4 linked regions of the Homo sapiens genome follow. The protein of the gene in region 3 purifies or fractionates together with the protein of the main gene of each other region. This does not show direct contact. Each region holds a gene or a part of one and is shown on either strand. Other genes may lie near its edges.

What was found.
Region 1: the proteins of CALD1 (region 3) and VDAC1 purify together in Homo sapiens (affinity purification with mass spectrometry; one large-scale study listed by BioGRID and IntAct). This does not show direct contact.
Region 2: the proteins of CALD1 (region 3) and PHLDB2 purify together in Homo sapiens (affinity purification with mass spectrometry; one large-scale study listed by BioGRID and IntAct). This does not show direct contact.
Region 4: the proteins of CALD1 (region 3) and TMOD3 purify together in Homo sapiens (affinity purification with mass spectrometry; one large-scale study listed by BioGRID and IntAct). This does not show direct contact.

The regions. Positions count from the first base shown.
Region 1 is NC_000005.10:133,994,023-133,998,909, forward strand, and holds part of VDAC1 (non-selective voltage-gated ion channel VDAC1), read right to left. Parts: intron 1-4,887. UniProt on the Homo sapiens protein: Non-selective voltage-gated ion channel that mediates the transport of anions and cations through the mitochondrion outer membrane and plasma membrane.
Region 2 is NC_000003.12:111,861,831-111,866,717, reverse strand, and holds part of PHLDB2 (pleckstrin homology-like domain family B member 2), read right to left. Parts: intron 1-4,887. UniProt on the Homo sapiens protein: Seems to be involved in the assembly of the postsynaptic apparatus. May play a role in acetyl-choline receptor (AChR) aggregation in the postsynaptic membrane.
Region 3 is NC_000007.14:134,781,694-134,786,580, reverse strand, and holds part of CALD1 (caldesmon), read right to left. Parts: intron 2,252-4,887; exon of another isoform or gene 2,065-2,251; intron 1-2,064. UniProt on the Homo sapiens protein: Actin- and myosin-binding protein implicated in the regulation of actomyosin interactions in smooth muscle and nonmuscle cells (could act as a bridge between myosin and actin filaments).
Region 4 is NC_000015.10:51,835,719-51,840,605, reverse strand, and holds part of TMOD3 (tropomodulin-3), read right to left. Parts: intron 1-4,887. UniProt on the Homo sapiens protein: Blocks the elongation and depolymerization of the actin filaments at the pointed end. The Tmod/TM complex contributes to the formation of the short actin protofilament, which in turn defines the geometry of the membrane skeleton.

The DNA of each region.
Region 1 (4,887 bases), on a different chromosome or scaffold from region 3:
ATTCCATTCGTTTTAAAATACAGTATACCTAAATTATCAAAATTCATCTGCATATATACCATCTGAAGTTACATGTATATATATTCACACAAATAAACACATATATGACATGCTCCTGGCATGTCATATGACATGATATGCTTCCATATCATCAATGGAAGTTGCATTCTTGGCCAAAGCTTTAACTTCAAAGGCATTGCAGGAGGCCACAGACTCACTGAGTATGTTGTAAAAGAAACAGTATAAACTTCTACAATTTTAAATTGTGAAGTTGTGATCCAGGTCCTACTTTACTTTTTCCAGATGCTTTGTTAATTTTATCCCAGCTCACTTTTGTGTCAGAGCACAGACAGAAGAGCAGCGAGCTGTTTACTCTGTCCTATTTTTGTCGCTGCTGTGTTATTTCTTGCACATGATCAGGCTGAAACCATGGACAGGTCAGCCCACATTAGTATCAGGGTAGAGAGATGAGGGGGGAAGATCCATTTTACACTGCCCGCCACTGGCTCTTTCCAGTCTGGGGGCTCCCCTCTCCCCACTTGTTCCTCCCTCCCAAACTAACCCTGTAGGTGCATCCCCCCGGGATAGACCAGGAAACCACCCACCAGAACCTCAAGAAATACCCTTTACCTGACACCTTCCTAGGAGAACAACTCTGGATTGAAAGCTGAGGCAATGTAACCCCAGGCAGACACAGAACATAACAGTAACGGGCCCAGAACATTCTCCACCCGACAGGGTTAACAAACCATCAGTGAACCAAGTACCCCTCTTCAGTGCTATGCCTCCCAGGGGGGCCACAAACTCAGCCGGGGTGGGGGCTGGGGAAGCAGAAGGAGAAGCAGTCCAGTGGTAATATCTGTGGGTCACCTAAGACCTCCCTGGACCTTAGGAGCCAGAGCCTTCCCCACGACTCTCCCCTGACCCCACAGAAGAGACGCCTCCCAGACACAGCAGCCTTCACATCTGGACTGGTCCCCGCTCAGGATAAAGGCAGAGCACTCATCCATTAAATGTTCCCCAAATGCCCTCTCTCATCGCTAATCCCCAAAATCCAACAAGCACAGCCACCTGTCAAAAAACACCCCACCCACAGCAAACATCAGCCTGAAGTACAAGGCCACTAAAGAGATTACCACCCAAGGACAAGGCACTCAGAGAGCAGAGCTCAGAAGAGCAGACCGGACCCCTCCTGGGGCCTCTAGGAGCTCCGACACGGCCAAGCTCTTTTGGGGCTGTGGGGTTCCACAACACAACCATGTAGTTGGTACCAGCAGCACGCAAGTGAACTTGCTGGTTCACTAAAACATATCCCTATCCAATGCCTCACTGTAAACATACTGGATGCTGGCTTTCTCATCTGTGTCTTGCTCTCTTCCCCATCTCCTTGAACACCGACAATGAAGCATAATCTCCCCCGTTCTGGGCCCCCAAGTAAGCATTCTCCCCAGCATAGCACCTGGCAAGGAAGACTCACAGAAACCACTGGCTGAATGGAGTCAAGTCCACTCCTGGGCCTGAAGTGACACCACCGAGGACAGCAAAAGGATGACTCACCCTTTCACTAAAGGCCCCCAACTGCCAGGTAGTGGTAGCTTCCCCTCCTTTTTGTGCACTTCGGCCCATCCCCTGCTGCACTGATCTGACGGAACTAAGGAAGGCCCGAGACAGCTCTGCCGCTCCGAGAAGTTCAGCTTTCTTACAGCTACAGACAGCACCCCCAAAATGCCCATTTTTACACAGCTCTCGAACCCATTTCAGAGACAATTTTATGATAGAAATAATAATCTGCATTAATTTTCTAAGGCGAGGACTGGAGGAAAGAAAAGTCGGCAACAAAGCCTGCTTTCACTTAACACCCTGCCAGGGTGCTGACTTGAAGGCTGAACCCTGGCCCCCACCCCTCCCAGTCACTCCTTCCACCCAGATCTGCTCCAAATCGGAGCCTGTACAGTTAGCTACTGATACACAGCTGTCTCTGCAGCATCCACCCCCCAGGGGCCTTCACAAGCTGAGCCTCTAGAGGCTGCGCATGAAGCAGGGCAGTCTGGCATCGGCAAAGCAGCTAGCCCTGGACAGACAGAAGTCAGAGGGCGTCCTGGGGGAGTCAGAACCACAGGCCTCTCTGCCTGAGTGATGGCTTCAGGGCAGAGCCTGGGGGCTTTGTTCCCACTGGTTGGTAGGAAACAGAGGGATGGGCAGGGCCAGGCTGAGCAGACCTGCCTGCAGTCACTGAAGACTTTGAGAAGGACCAGCAAGTCACACCAGGATACAGGAGTCCCTGGTTCCCCTCCACAGCCTGCCAGTCTACCTACCCAACCTTTCCTTGGCTGACCTTGAACAAATTATGCAAGCCCCATTCCAGCTGAGGAATGAAAATCCGGCCCATACTGGAAGCACAGAGGGGAAGGATAGTGTATCTATCACCCAGCACAGTCTGCATAATACTTACGTAACCTCTGTCTTGGGGGTACACATCCTTCTTGGCTCATCAGCTGAATGGCAATGACAGCTGCTGTGCTCACCGTGCCCCCACCCCACCCTACCCCATACACCTACCCCCAAAATCACCTCTTTGAATTCAAAGCACCCCAGAGCCTGTCATGCATAAATTTATCCAAAATATGGAAAAAGTTACGTATATAAAGATGCTAAGCCCTGGCACATAATAGGCATTCAATATAAATGTGTTTGATGAGTGAATGAGCAATGAGCATCAAAGTATTATTTAGCAATGGGGAAAAAAGTAGAAACTTGGAATCTGACAATAGGAACTCATTACAATGCAACCAGGAAGTAAGAGCTCCCTCTGCAGGCTCACTGTTGCAGCATCACCAAGAGTGGGGGAGTTGGGGAGACCCTCAACTAGCAATGACCTCCACTCCCTGCCTGCTCCCACCTCGGCCTAAGGAGAGCTGATCTCAGGCTGAGGAGACCAAGTGCCATCAGAAGCACTGGTTGCTTCTGACCTCAATACCATGCATGGATTTTATTCTAAGGGCCACCAAGAGCCACTGTTGAGTGACTACCACATCTGTGTTTCAGAAGCTCACTTAACCAGCAGTCTGGCAAAAACGTAAATAATATCCAGTGTCAGTGAGGGTGTGGAAAACAGTCACTCTTGTTCACGCCAAGGGGGAGTACTACAGGTACACTCTTTTTGGAGAGCAATTAACCCAGCATTAACCCTAGTGGCAATTCCACTTCTAGGAACCTGCCCCACTGTAGCAACCAAGGCACTACTCAAAGATGTGTATATGAGGATGCTCACTGCAGCAGTATTTGTAACACAAAACCCAGAAGCAACCTAAAAGTCCATCAAAAGGAAAATGAATGAATAAAAATTAAGGTACTATACTTGCAAACTAAGGAGTACCATATGGTAATCAAAAAGAATAAGGTGGGTGGCTCATGCCTGTAATCCCAGCACTTTGGGAGGCTGAGGTGGGCGGATCACTTCAGGCCAGGACTTCCAGATCAACCTGGCCAACATGGCAAAACCCCGTCTCTACTAAAAATAAAAAAAAAATAAAAAAAAAAAATCACCCAGGTGTGATGGTGCACGCCTGTAATGCCAGCTACTTGAGAGGCTGAGGCACAAGCTTAAACCAGGAGGCAGAGGTTGCAGTGAGCCAAGATCATGCCACTGCACTCCAGCCTGGATGACAGAGCGAGACTGTCTCACAAAAAAAAAAAAAAAAAAAAAAGAATAAGGTGGATGTATGTGGTGGCATAGAAAGCTAGCTATGAAGCTACGATAGCCGTGCGCAGTGGCTCATGCCTGTAATCCCAGCACTTTGGGAGGCCGAGGTGGGCGGGTCACCTGAGGTCAGGAGTTCGAGACCACCCTGACCAACATGGAGAAACCCTGTCTCTATTAAAAATACAAAATAAATTAGCCAGGCGTGGTGGCGCATGCCTGTAATCCCAGCTACTCGGGAGGCTGGGGCAGAAGAATTGCCTCAACCTGGGAGGTGGAGGTTGTGGTGAGCTGAGATCGCGCCATTGTAATCCAGCCTGGGCAACAAGAGTAAAACTCCGTCTCGAAACAAAAAAAAAAAAAAGAAAGAAAGCTAGCTAGCTATGATACAGTTAAATGAAAAAAGTCAGAAAATTTGTAATTCCATGTAATTGGAGGAAAACCTTTTTACACATCTTTCTATGTTCATGAATGGATGGGAAAGCATGTGGAAGGATACAAGCCAATCTGCAAATTGGGGCTGGCTTAGATACGCTTCTGGAGAAGGAGGTTTAGGGAAGGAATGCACTTCAAATCGAATTTTCATTTTTTGTTCTGCTTCATTATTTAAGCTGTTTGTGTATACTAATAATTTGTTTAAGGATAAAGAATTTCAATACAAAAATTAGCCGGGCGTGGTGGTAAGTGCCTGTAATCCCAGCTACTTGGGAGGCTGAGGCATGAGAATCACTTGAACCCAAAGGCAAAGGCTGCAGTGAGCCAAGATCGTGCCACTGCACTCCAGCCTGGGTGACAGAGCGAGAGACTCCCTCTCCAAAAAAACAGCACTTTAAAAGCCAACCACTGTGCCTGAAATTGAGCTGTGTTGTGTCCCAAATCACGTTCCAAGGCTGCTGCAGTAGCAATGCCAGAAGGCTACCTAGAGTGTCCATACAGATTGCAAGAACAGATTTAAACTACACTGAGATGGAAGAGTTATCAGGCAAGGTCCGTCGGGGCACATTTCACTCCCAGGTGACCACTAGTGGCTTGGCCACCCTGCCAGAAATCATGAGCAGGAAAGAGCTCCCTAACTTCAGGGTGCACAAGAATCACCGGAGGCGCTTGTTCAAGAAGAGCCTGCCAGAAGAGATGGAACTCCTCCTGCCCTACCTCTCAGCCTGTGCCTAACAGGCAGGGCTGCCCCC
Region 2 (4,887 bases), on a different chromosome or scaffold from region 3:
GATCTTTTGATCTCAAAGCTAATTTCAAGCAAGAGAATTATCAACCTGGGGATCATATGTAGATAAAGATGCTCTCTCTTGACCCTGAAACCACCTCCGTGGACTTTAACTGGAAGCTGAGGAGAGTGTATGGGAGGGAAACTCTCCGATCTTGCCGCCATCCTGCCCCATCCCACACTACTGATCAAAAGACACTCCCTTAAGAGTAATATTTAATTTTTCCAAAGTAACATTCCCCAGACCTAAATACTTGCTGGAATTCCCATTCCCTAACCCAAGATTTATGAACTGGGAATAGTCAGGGTACAAACAGGCTCACAAGAGGTGGAACAAACACAGGTCAACCACATCTTCCATGTTTGTAATGCATTTCGCTTTACATCACAAATTGAGTACATGAGGCCGGGCTCGGTGGCTCATGCCTGTAATTCCAGCACTCTGTGATGCTGAGGTGGGCAGATCACCAAAGGTCAGGAGTCTGAGACCACCCTGGCCAATATGGCGAAACCCCATCACTATTAAAGTACAGAAATTAGCTGGGTGTGGTGGTGCATGCCTGTAATCCCAGCTACTCGGGAGGCTGAGGCAGGATAATCACTTGAACCTGGGAGGCCGAGGTTGCAGTGAGCTGGATCGCACCACTGTACTCCAGCCTGGGTGACAGAGCAACTCTGTCTCCAAAAAAAAAAAAAAAAAAAAAAAATGAGTGGGTGGGGTAGGTTTCTAAAATATTGTAAAGTAAAAATAATAATTATGATAATATCATATCTTCATTACTTAGCAGCTGATTGTGCAGAATGAGTATTATAAAACACTTAATTTTTCCCTTCCATGCTATCTACCTTTTGACCACTTACTGCTTGAAAGAAGGGAAATAACTTGAACAAGTCAAGATAAACAATTGACTAAGTTTAATTTAATTTTAATCAATGCTTTTTTTTTAATAACTCTGGCCAAAAGATCTAATAAAGGAAATGGTTACGTTAGGATGTTATTTTTATTACAGTGGCCAATCTAGTAGAAAGAACACTGGATAGGCTGCCAGGGAAGCAAGTCAGAAGATCCATCTTAGTTCTGGTTCTGCTAACAGAACTAAGATCTGGAGCACGTCAATTCGCCTGTCTTCATTTTGTTTCAACAGGAGTTTCTCCATACTCAACATGGTGAGAGTGAACTACATGTTCTTTCTGCTCCAACTTTCTGGACTCCCACAGATACTGGTTAAATAACACAGGAGTGCTCATTACATAATGCAGGAAATGGAAATGACCACAGAACAGAAATAGTTTTAGTGATAAGGTGGCAGCTACCTAATTGGGAAAAGATTTCACCGGACTGTTGCCCATGACATTCCAAAGGCATGGTAAATTGTTTTAGCATAACATAGTGGGAAAAAGGCCTGGTCAGAGTTATGGTAATGTAATATAATATGGGTATTTGATTGAGCATGATGTATAAGAAAGGTTTTGTCTGCATTCCCATGGCTTGCAGTTTCCTTAATAAATCTTAAGCTGTTTTTGAAAAGCTACTTCTGCAATGACGTAAGCAGTGAGGCAGCCAGACATCACTTCTCAATCCCCTCTGAATATCTCTTGGCTGTGCGGCACTATTCACACTGGGTCTGCACTGGTCAAAAGAATGTAGGAGCTGGGTTTCTTTTGCCTTTATCTTTCCTTGTTTTAGCAGTAGGGTGGTCAAGAAAGAAATCTTGGAAAACTCTTGTAATCTTTAACTTTTTTGCTATTTCATAGGCTAGTTCCATGAACATACTGCCATCTAGGGCAGTCACATGCAATGTGCAAACAAAACATTCTAAGATGATCAACACCAATTCCCACTGAATTAGCAGCAAGTCTCAGAAAAAGCTGACCTGGCTTAAGGCCATCGATAAACAGTGGCATACACAATATTTTCTTTCCTTTTACTTTGTAAAGTAAGGAAAAGCACTTCATCTAATAAAATCAACCTAACACACTAAACAAGTATCTCCTGTAAAAATCCTCTCAAAAACTTTTTGACTAACCCTGTTACTCTATATCTTATTAATCTGTTTCTTTGTATAGCAATTACCTACAACCTCTAGTTTCCCACACAACAGTAAAATGATTTTTACACTTGGGTTTCTCTTATTGACCACTAGCTGCTATAGACAACTATCTTGCCTTTAAAGCAGATACAGCACAAAGCTCCTTTTCTGCAATGTCTAAGAAACATCCTTAAGCGTCATGAAAACAACTGTAAGCAAATTAACTCCCAGAAGGTTCAAATTCCTGGATGAACATAGAGAGAAGTTCTGCCTTGCTAAATGTTTACTTTGAAGGGATTTGAAAATCTGAGCTAACAATTTTGGTTTCATTTATTTTTAAAAGACAAGTTACTTTAATCAAATCCCAATAAATATTTCTAGCCAACAGTTATTTTTTTAAAAACTACTCCTGTCTCCTCTCCCATCATCTGAAAAACAGTAACAAGAATGGCCAGATGAAAGATGATAATGAAAAGACTGCTACACCCCTTTTGCATAGTACCTGCGGGGGGGCAGATCCCTTAAAAGGGCTATCACTCTTGAGTCATTTCTAAATATATCACTATGTACTTGGCTTTGAGGTGCACCCTTTGGCTAGTTGTCAAAATGATAAGAAACTATCTTAACACTTTTCAGAGGTTTTATGTCTCCCACCAAAGGCATACTAAAAACTTTCCTATATGGCCAGAACCTGTCAGATTTGAGTATTAGATAAAATAACTACCACAGGAGGACAGCTTGGCACCCAGAACTAGAATCTATAATCATGAGCCTAATGGCTAACCATAGCAATGTAAACAGGAGAGTATACATGTTTGTAATTAATCAGGCTATGGTGTACAACTTTTCTGATAATCATAAACTCATTAAGGTAACTCCTTTCTATAAACAGCCATTCACAAATACCATGCTTTTTAAACTCTCCCAAGTAATTAACAATAACTTTCTTTACTATCATTTTCTTTCCCATTAGGTAAACACATGGAATGGTAGAGACTGTGGGTGCAGGAGAAAGTACAATAGAACAGGAGGCTTGCAGATTCTGCCGCTATCTAACCCAGTTAGTTGGTTGGAGGGAAAAGATTCAGATAAGAGGATTTCTAAGGTTCCTTTTACCCCCATAGTTATTTTGTTCTACATGCTGAAAGAATAGCTAAGCTTGAATTGTCTTCTGATTCTTAATCCTAGTTCTATGCAATTGAATTTATATTAGATATCCCCTCATCAGCTTATGAATTTCTCCCACAATTTCCCCAACACTTGCTCATTTCCATATATGCCAGGTGTCTTTTTTTCTTCCATACTCAGGAGGCCTCTGTAATTCTCCCTTCTGTCCAAGCCAGCCCTATCCATTCATGTACTCTACTCTTAACCGATAAGGCAGGGAGGAACAGAAAATCTCAAATGTTCTGTTTTGTACCTGGATTCAAAAGCAACATCTGCTATGTCTGTGGAACCATCTGTTGCCTACTTTGCCATGGAAAGGACAGTACAGGCATCAGAAGTGGAGTGTCACAGGTCATATAATGGAATTACCCCTTTCTGGGACTGGGGCACCCAGGCACGTGCCCCACAGTCTCTATGGCTAATGCCACCCCTCCCCCATCGAAGCATTTATTTATTTTCTCACAGGGAATGGTGCTTTGAAACTTTTACACAAGGTCAGGTCCAGTGTGTTTTGTTTTTTGTTCCCATTTGCCTGAATCTCTATTTTAAAATTTTTAACTCCTGGGTTGTACCTAGAACTTTGTCTGCCCGCCCTTAGCTCGCTTGAGACCTTATGAGTCCTAAAGCTCTGAGTGTCTCAGTTTTTTACATCTATAAAAAGAAGGGGTAGAAATTAAGTGATCTCTGAGGCTCCCTTGTGCTCTAATGCTCCCAAATCCCATGACTTTAATCCATCTCAAAGTTGTCAATGAACACAAGTTCCTCGACCTCTATGGTATATTAAGACTCTAAATGGCAAGGACAAAAGAATCTGCTGCATACAAAACGGCTTCTATGATAAGGGTCTCTTGTTTAACACAGTTAAACAAGTTTCTTGAGGATCCAAATCAGATTAAGATGCCTAATCTTGTTAACCTACTCCCCCAGGCAATACTGTAGTGCAGGGTTTGGGGCTGCATAATTGTTTTTGTGTCCCGTGCATGGCAGGGTGCTTAACCGCATCCCAGGCCTCTACCCACTATATGGCAGTAGCACTCTCCTCCTGTCAGTTGCTACAACCAAAAATACGTTGCCAGTATCCTCTGGGGGCCAAAACCCCTCTCCCAGTGAAAACCACAGCTCTAATGTATGTCAGGACTTTAAGATAAAGCACATCACTTAGGTGTTTTTGTTTCAAAAGAGTGACATTTACACAATCAACAATTGGTACACCAAGACTTTACAGATAGATTCATAAGGCACAGGTACTCCACCTAGAAAATGTACAAAGCCACTGTCACTCTAAGCCATCCACAGCACCATAGCACTGCCTCCCTGCTAAGGGTTGAAAATCAGGATATAAAGCCATAACGTTAACTACTCCTTTAAAAATATTTAAAAGGAGACCGGGTGTGGTGGCTCATGCCTGTAATCCCAGTACTTTGGGAGGCCAAGGCAGGTGGATCACCTGAGGTTAAGAGTTTGAGACCAGCCTGACCAACATGGCAAAATCCTGTCACTACTAAAAATAGAAAAATTAGCCAGGTGTGGTGGCAGGCGCCTGTAATCCCAGCTACTCGGGAGGCTGAGGCAGGAAAATGGCTTGAACCAAGGAGGCAGAAGTTGTAGTGAGCCGAGGTAACTTCTCCAATGAACTCGAGAGTCAACCCTTGCTTATAGATCTCAAAATGGAGCTTTGAAGAAAATAGGGAAAA
Region 3 (4,887 bases):
TATATATCTGACAGACCAATAAGACAGGGCAGACATTAATCGAAGAAACCTACAAATACATACATAATTTTACTTGGTGTGGCTAGGCTTTGGAGAATAAAAAATAGATCACTGGTTCATATTTTAAAAAGAATTTCTACTTAAGATCCCAAATTTCCTGTCCCAACCTTCCCACACATAATATAATTATATGTTTTAAGTCCACTCATTAATAAAACACAAAAACACAAACTTAAAAGCTACTATGAATTCAATAACTCTTTTAAATAAATTAGCATTTTATCATTATAATGTATGTATAGAATTAGAAAAATAGTAGCACATATGATGTAAGATATATTATTTACTCAGAGTAGCTTGCCAAAAGCACTTGCTGCATATACAGATTTGTTTACCTCTTGCAATGACTTTGTGGCCTCCCAGGGATCCACCACCCAGAGGTTAAAAACCTACAGACCACATTAATGAAGACTAAAACATGGTACTTGAGTAGATATGGCCCTTCTCTTCCACAACAGATATCACTATCAGTGACCACATTTTCCCCTCCCCTCTGAGCTTAGATTCATCCTCAGAATCCTTCTTAACATGCCAATTGGTTGGAGCTGGCATACAGATGAAAAGTTATATGTACTCCTTGGGCTGAATGAGCTCCTAAGGTCTTGCCCAGCTTAAAAATTCTATGAATTTATATATTCAGTTCTGTTCTGCTGCCTTGAGAAACACAAATGCCTTCTCCCATGTTCATATAAAAGTACCCCAAATATTAGAAGATATTTATGTGGCCTCATTTTCTTTTCTTTGGGATAAACAGCTCTAGATCCCTTATCGGTTCAGCATATGTTTTGCCTCCTGACTCCCTCCAGCCTTTGATGCTAACCCTAGAATGCATATGTATCCATGCCTTTCAGAAAAATGAGCCCAGAACAGAGCACAAGTTCCCAAATGGGATCCGAACTATGCAGAACTCAGGGGATATTTTAGTCCACTTGACAAACACCATGATGGGTGCTCAATGGATTAAAAATTACATAGCAAATATTGCTTAGATCTGAAACTTCCAGTGATTAAGAGTACACCAGCTTTTATGCATTCACCTTATTATGTACTGTGGTTTACATTGAGTTGTGCTTGTTTTTATTTATTAAAATTGTTAAATGATTACATATTAAATCTTCAAGACTGCTTTCATTTGAAGGGAGCCATATCACATGGAAGATTCATATGAAGTTTCTTGCCAACAATAATATCCAGAATGTTTTTTCCCAAAATCTTTCTGAGATGGATGATTCTTATCCTTTCAGTTACCAGTGGTGCAAACTTCTAGATTAATCTCCCTTAACACTGGCTCAGTGGGTCACAGTGATCATCAAGAACTGTGTGATCATTCATTGGGTGTTTGCCTCTCTAGGAGTTTATTCACCTCAAAATTCAAATGATTCCCATTGAGAGCTGTTGGACATTTCAGCTAATTTGCCTTCCATGCTCAATTTCTCTTCTAACTAAAATTACCCATTGAGCTCTTCTTTGCCCAGGGGTGACCACTGCCTGGATTAGAGTAATTCATCCTTAGGCGCGCCTGTGCCTTTGATGTCCTCCTCCTACTAAAGGATTTGCCAAAGACAATAGTCTTTGACTGAACCAATCAGATCTCCTCTCTCAGGACTGGACCTGGAAACACAGAAGAAATTTTCCAGTTGATAGAACAACAGAAAGAGGCAGACACGTGCGCTGAGCTGAGTCACACTAGTGGAAAGGGATGGAGTAAATATCCATGGACCGCGGCTGGGATCCTCTCACCCACCTTGACTCTAACTCTACTCTCTTTGGGCCCTGGTCCTATTTGGGCTTCTGCTCTTGGATATCCCTGTGATTTCATCCGTTCGTTAATCTGTGTCTTACAATCCTGGCCCTTTACTTGAGCTACCAAAGTTTGCTCACATAGAGGTCTATTTCTTCCTAACACTGGGCCATGTGCTCTCCCAGACTTCACCTTATTCATCCATACACTACTTCACTAAGCTCTGCCTGACTTCTGATTTTTGCTGTTTCTTCTTTACTCACCTGGCTGTCATGCACAACTTAGCCCATTTTTGTAACTGATATCCATTCTGGCTTAGACTGGTCCTCCTGACCCCAGTGGAACTAATATCTTTGATGCCAACTGGTCCTTGGCCCTCTTGGGCACTTTGCCTTGGTCCTTCTGGTCTTCAGCACAAGGTGAAGTCAGCCTGGTTCCCCAGCAATGTATCTTGAGACAAGCGAGGGGGAATGTTATATGTGGGTGTCAGAGGAACTAATTATATATTCCTGCTTAATATGTTTCTCTCCAAGTGAGATTATTCCCTTTTAGTCAAGTGCTTTCATGGAGTATTCACAAAACAATGCCAGAAGCCTCAGGATACCATCAAAAAGCAATTTATCTTCAAGTTATACATCATTTATACATATACATATATTTTCAAAGAAAAGCCATGTACTAAAATGAGTGCCCGATATACTAAAATCTTTTAAAAATGTATTTTCCTTCAACTATTCCCTTACTGCTGCTTAGCAAGCCTTTTATTAACTTCTGGGTGTTCTTTTTACGTACACTTAATAGCAGCCATTCCTGGATTTCTCTAGCCCCCACGAGCTCCCCATAGAAAATTGCTTCTTTTCTGGAAATGACCTCTTTTTCTTTGAAATGGAGGTCATATGACGCAATCTCCACCTATATATCTGTGTATTTACCCCCTCTTTTCTTCCTTCCAGATCATGGACACCTCCACTCATGTTCTGATCCCATCCACCCTTGTCTTCTATGGGAATCCAGATCTGACCCCACTCCCCATCTTACATGCCCCAGCTCAAAGGTCTCTTACCTGTCAATCATGAAGCGTGGGTTTACAAAGGGACCTTAAGGGTTCACAGTTTTTATCAGATTCTCAAAGGTTTCCATAGCAACAACACAGGGAAGAACAACACAGGGAACAACCTCATCACCCCTCCCTCACAGCCCAGGTCATAGTTTCCCCCCGACCCCGCTCCCATAGCCTTACCCACAGCCTGCCAATTATGAGTTTGGGGTGAGAAGCAGAGTGGGTCCTTACCACAAAACATGCTCTGACATCTCCTCTGTCTGTGCAAGTGGCTTTCCCTAGCTAGAACCTATCTGTGCTAGAGTGTTCTGCTGTACTCTGGGCCTCATCTTAGAGCTGGCCCCTGCAAATTGTCAATGTTGGATCAAGAAAGCTCCCTATCCGGTACAGGGATGGGGGAGCTGGGGAAGAGGTTACAGGTGGAGGCCTGGGGGTAAGGAAGTTAGGGATGCAACTAGGGTCGGTTACAGCTGGGAGCACTAAAGACAGAAGCAAAGAGGTGAGAGGCGAGCTCCGTGGAGCAGTCTGGTTTCAATACCAACAGGAACCACAGCCAGGTGTTCCTGCCTTCCTTGCCCTTCCTACAAGGCCCAGGCATGACGTTCCGGGGTTCATTCCATGCTTTTGGCTGGAGGCAGAGAAGCTGCCTCAATTACTTAAGGGCTTTCTGTTGTCAGCACTTTCTCACTGGTCTTATGCTCAAGTGGATCTTTGGATTTCCTGGTGCCTTGTACCACTGATGGCCCATCTTATTCCACTTCCTTATATTTGTGTCCTCTTAGTCTGTGATCATCAAAGTAAAAATTCAGACAACATTGGGATAGACCAGTATTCACTGGACACGGCTCAGGGCTCTAGAAATAACCAGGAGCGAGAAGATATCACTCAAGGGTCCTTAAATACGAGAAAGGAAGAGATCATTAGGGATACTAGGTAAGAAGTGGAGGATACCAGCCAAGATGAGCATAATGTCCAGAGGACTCAAATGATAGGCAGTTCAGGGTATAGAATCTGCAGGGAAGAGGGAGCAAACAGCTTCATCTCATTTGGACGTCTTAACCACTGTGGGACATCGGAGAAGCATTACCAATGTCCGTTCTTCACTCAACAGATGAAGTCAAAAGCTGATGATTTCCTCAAAAAGGTCAGGGTTACTTAAGCAGAGGAACCAATACTAGAACTGAGATGTTGTAGTGGTTCTCATAAGTTAAGCCTGTGCCAAAAGTTTCTCTTTAAACTACCCATCTACTCAGGACTTATGGGCATCTCTCCAATAGCAAACTTGGATTAGCCTGACAGATGAAGGACTTTCAGTAAGGAGCTAATGGTATCTTCTCAGGCCCTAAGAGAACTTAACGCAGAAAACGCCCTTTTGAAGTCTGAAAATTCTTTGGCAGCATCTTTCTAACCTCCTCCTTAGTCCTACCATGCTATTTGCATACCACTCTATCAGCATTTTTCCTGTCCCCCGACCACATTTCTGAGACATGTGATAGACTACAGGCAAATGGGGAACTAGCAAATCTCTTTTCATGCCCATCTCTGAATCACTTTTGCGTCTTGCTAAGGAATGACTAACTGGTAATCATGCTATCAAGAAAATGGCAAATGGAGACAATTACATGTGTTTCTACAAAAATGCCTGCTGAGGTGCATTTTATTTATCAGAACAGAGAATACCTGGGCTAGATTCTGGACCTTTACATGGCTGGCCATAAGATCAACTTATTCTATCTACCTAAGACAAGGAGATTCTCAGGCCAGTCACAGGAGCCAATTAGAATTGTTAATGATTCTCATAATAAGGCAGTTGCCTTACTGTCAGGAAATGCTTTCATGTATCTCATTTAAAATCCTTTAAACTGCAGTTTGAGCCTGGTTCTCCTTCTCCTAACTTTAATATAAGAATTGTGTATTTACTTAAGGCAATCTTTTGACTGGAATGATTTAAATTACACCTTCTATTTGCTTCGAATACTTGAAACAACCCTGCACTTTACTTATGGATCAATCCATTGTACATACA
Region 4 (4,887 bases), on a different chromosome or scaffold from region 3:
CAAAAAAGATTTCAACTTCTTGCTAACTTTATAACCTTGGGCAAGATATTGAACTATTGTTTTGTCCCTCTGTTTTCTCATCCGTAAAATAAGAATAATAAGAGTAACCATCTCATGGGATTGATATGTTAATTTGTTAAATGAGGATAACATATATACATCACTTAGAACAGTACCTAACACAGAGCATGTGATCAATGTTAGCTAATAGTCATTATCTTCATTAAATATTATCTTCATTTTTAAGGAACACTTCATTAGTTCACATTAAGTAAATGAGATATTATTCATACTATACTCTGATCCACATAACATAAGCAATTAAGCGCAGAGACTGAGAGAGTTGGAAACTAAAGAGAATACAGAAGAGTGAGAGATCGATGTACACAAAGAAAACAATAGAAGAGAGGTGCTAGCCCACCACTTTGCCCACACTTCTATCAATATTTATCTCACCAGACCATAATCAGTCTCCATGTCTCTGACAGAGAGACCACAATCTATTTCCACCATAGATTGTGAGCACTTTGAGGGCAAGGACCTATTTTTACATTATCAGCCCCTAATATAGTGCCTGCAACATGGTAGACACTAAATTAACATAAAATAAAGTAATATAAGGGGACTCAGTAAGCATTGAGGTCAATGATGTGAGAACTTGGTTTTATCATATCCTAATGGGGCTGGGAGCGGAGTCAGTAAAGTTGTACTGTATTGTCACTCTTTGATTATCAATATTCTACTCCCCTATTCTTTCTGAACTGAGAAACAAATTCCAAAAAGAAATGTTTAAAAAATATTTAATCTGCTATAAAATTAGAAAATTTCCAAATGATAACACAAATTTTAGTAATTCATTTTAAGTATTAAAAATATTGCTCACTAGAAAAATTAGCCAGGTGTGGTGGTGTACAAATTGTAGTCCCAGCTACTTGGGAGACTGAGGCAGGAGGATTGTTTGAGCTCAGGAGTTCAAGGCTGCAGTGAGCTATGATCACACCTGCACGCCAGCCTGGATGACAGCGAAAGCCTGTCTCGAAAAAAAAAATTGCTCTGAATTGACTATTATACCTAAAAGTTAATCCTAATGGTCAAATGGCAAGTCATAGGAATAAATAGACACCAAATAAGAGAAGACTGAGTGTGGTGGCTCACCTCTGTAATCCCAGCAATTTGGGAGGCCAAGGCAGGAGGACTGCTTGAGCCCAGGAGTTTGAGACTAGCCTGGGTAACATAAAGAGACCCCATCTCTATAAAAATTACAAAAAATTAGCCAGGCATGGTGGCACGTGCCTTTAGTTCCAGCTACTTGGGCAGCTAAGGTGGGAGGATTGCTTGAGCCTGGGAGGCGGAGGTTGCAGGGACCTATGATCACACCTGCACTCCAGCCTAGGCAACAGAGTGAGACCCAGTCTCAAACAAAATGGAAAAAAAAAAAAAGAGAGATACACCTATTTCTTAGCTGTCAATCTGCCAGATGCAGGGAACATACCAAAAAAGAGAAGGCATGGTCACTTCCTTCTGACATCAAAATAAGCATGTTTTGAGATGAACAACCCCAAACCTCCTTGTGTGGGGGGACCCACCCCTTATTCCAGTCCCTGTGAAATATACAGCCAAAGAAACAACATAACAAAGCCACATCTTTCACAGCTGTTTGGTACAGGGGTCACCACTCTCAATCTAACCAGGACGGATCAAATTCAATTCTTCTCCAGAAATCTGGAAAGCTGGGAGACAAAACTCAAGTTGAGACATAAGGTATCACCAAGTCTGGAGGCACTACCATAACAAGCTAGTCACCTTGAAGCTGAAGCTAAGGGGAAAGCACAGAAGGTCAGTCTGCAGGGAAGAGAATGAAGCAGGGCTGGGGCTACAGGGAAAAAGTAAAGGAGGCACCTGCCTCAGGGTGTCTCAGTATTTAATAGGGTGCAAAAAAGCTCAGCAATCAAGATAAATTACACAGTAATGCATACTATTTTTTAAAAATTAAAATTAATGTCCTAAAATGGAGCAGAGGCACAGAAAGAAGCCAAAGAGAGCCCTACAAGCAGAGAGAGGACAGAGACTTTCAAAGTGTCTGCTCTGGGTACCAGTGGTAGGTCATTTCACGGACCTCAGCAGCCTTACAATAGTAATGCAGTACAACTCCCAGCTCTGCCACCATACCATCTAGCAAGATAGCTTAAGTGGGTTTGTGTTCCCGGAGACCTAAACACCTTGACTAACATACTCTATTTGGGAAAATGAGACATGCACATAAAGTGCTTTTTGTTTTTTTCAAGAAAATATATAATTAACTGCCAAAAGAATGGTACTGGCTATTAGTGTACAGAAATTCAGAGATCACTGTGGGTGGTCAGGGAGGGACAGAATTAGCTACACAGAGAGGAGTGGAGAAGTATATACTAAACAAAGAGATCAAAGCACAGGCTGAAAAAGGTTGGAGCTGGGAGGGAATCCAGGGCAAGAAGAAGAAAAGTAAAGGGAAAGGAGCGATCTTCACACACCCTGTGTTACACAGAAGTAAGTACGCCTCCATGCTCTTCCGCCTGCAGCCCTTACATCACACGGTTCATTACACAGGAAATGTCCTTTTGCACTCTTTCTCATGTTCAAATCCTTTCACATCTTTCAGGGACCAGTTCAAGTAACATTTCTGCAGAGGCTCCCCTTGTGTGCTATACCAGATTCAGGCAGTGGGAGAAGAAAAGAGGAAACAGTTTCTTCTGAGGTAGGAGGGAAGGCTAAGGGGCTTAAAGCAGTGCCAGCTATTCTCTGGTGGAGGGCACACTATATCACTTGGAATGCTGGCCAATGTCTAAGGAAAGCAGGAAGTGAGATGACTTGACAAGGAATAATAATGGGGGTTCAAGAAAAGTGGCAGAGGAAAGGCAAGCACAGAGGGTGTGCTGAGGACTAACAGAAGAGCCCACCTGCCCCGAAGGCCTTGCAGAGGTGAAATCCTACACATCTGCCTTGGTCCATTTCTGTGTAGGGTTCTGTAATTTTTCACCAAGAAACTGTAAATCTTAGGGACAACAGGAGAAAAACAAAAGTGGGGTGGGCATGACTTTGAAATCATCACATATTTATTGCTATTTCCAGTGAAATTAGACCCCCAACTCCTCAGCTGGTCTAGCACTCAAGTGGGCACATTAAAGAGGAAAAAAAAAAAAAAGAATAGTTCCCTAAGAGTATTAACCTGGGTTAATTATAGCCCACCATGAATGAAAATAAATCTTGGGGGTTGTATCATATCTTGTCACGTTTGCCTCAGGGTAAGGGCTGCCTGAATATAAGCCAGACTCATATACATTTGAGGGGCTTCTTCTGAATATTCCTTAACTCCTCATCAAAGTTTTACCACCACACCCAGGGAATGAAAATATTTTGTTGGCTGTAATTTTCCACATGGATGGAAATCCCCTACTGTATAAGTATCACTAATAATATCCTGCTCAAAAGAATTGCTATGCTATGGTTAAGGAAATACAACAATCTTCTTACCTACAAGTCTATATATATATATATCAAACCCAGCCCTCATTTTCTTCTAGTTTACCATGTTTTTATTCACTTTCTCACAGACACTTCAGGAACTGTGTTCACTTGTATGTACTTATCATGATGTTCATGCTTAGTTATGCCCAGATATGAAACTGTTTATTTGTAGGGGGTTATCATCACTGTATATGTTACCTTAGTTTGTAAGTTTGTCTTAGTGTGTTTGTGTTCCTTCCTTAGTGAGTGGGTGCAGGTGTTGAACATATATACCCGAGGCAGTGGATATCTTTATAGCTCAAAAAGGGTGCACATCTCAGGAGGAACCTTGACTGTATTTCAGTATTTTTCTTTTTTCTTTTTTCTTTTTTTTTTTTTGAGACGGAGCATCACTCTGTCACCAGGCTGGAGTGCAGTGACATGATCTCGGCTCACTGCAACCTCCACCTCCCAGGTTCAAGCGATTCTCCTGCCTCAGCCTCCCGGGTAGCTGGGACTACAGGTGTGTGCCAACATGCCTGGCTAATTTTTGTATTTTTAGTAGAGACGGGGTTTCACCATGTTGGCCAGGATGGTCTCGATCTCCTGACCTCGTGATCCACCCGCCTCAGCCTCCCAAGGTGCTGGGATTATAGGCGTGAAAACGAATTCTTAAGAGTAGTATAAGGGTGAAAGAAGCCAGGCACAAAATATGACATATTATATGATTCCATTTATATGAGATGTCCAGAAGAGGCAAATCTTAAGAGAGAGTAGATTAGTGGTTGCCTAGGGCTGGGTGGGGGAGACCAGGGGGGAATTGGGAGGAATTAGGTAGTAACTGCTAATGGTAAGGGGTTTATTTCTGGTGTGATGAAAATGTTCTAAAATGGTGGTGATGGTTCTACAGTTCTGAATGTAGCAAAATCCACTGAACTGTACACTTTAAATGGGTGAATTGTATGGTGTGCGAATTATATCTCACTAAAGCTGTTATATGTTAGAGAAAGGGGGAAGGAATGAATAAGGAAACCAAAGTTGTCCTGCATTTCCACAGAAAGGTAATCCTGTCTTTGAAAATCTTAGCTTTTTTCTGCTTCTATTTTAGTTAAGCTTTAGGATTCAAGACTCCTCACTGGTAAGTCCCCAGTTGTCTTTTCTCCATCTCTAATCTTTGTCTTTACTAACAAGGGTGATCTACCTAAGGGAGACAGCATTCACTAGTTACAACTCAATCTCTGAACAAAAAACAATATGCACACTATGATTACAATCATATAAAAATACGTATGAGAATGAATCAGGCCTGGAAAGAAATGAGGAAAAGTAAAAATAGCTACATAAGAATAATGAGGTTGGGGTGACATTCTTTTTAAAACTTAGTGTATTATCAGCAAATAAACT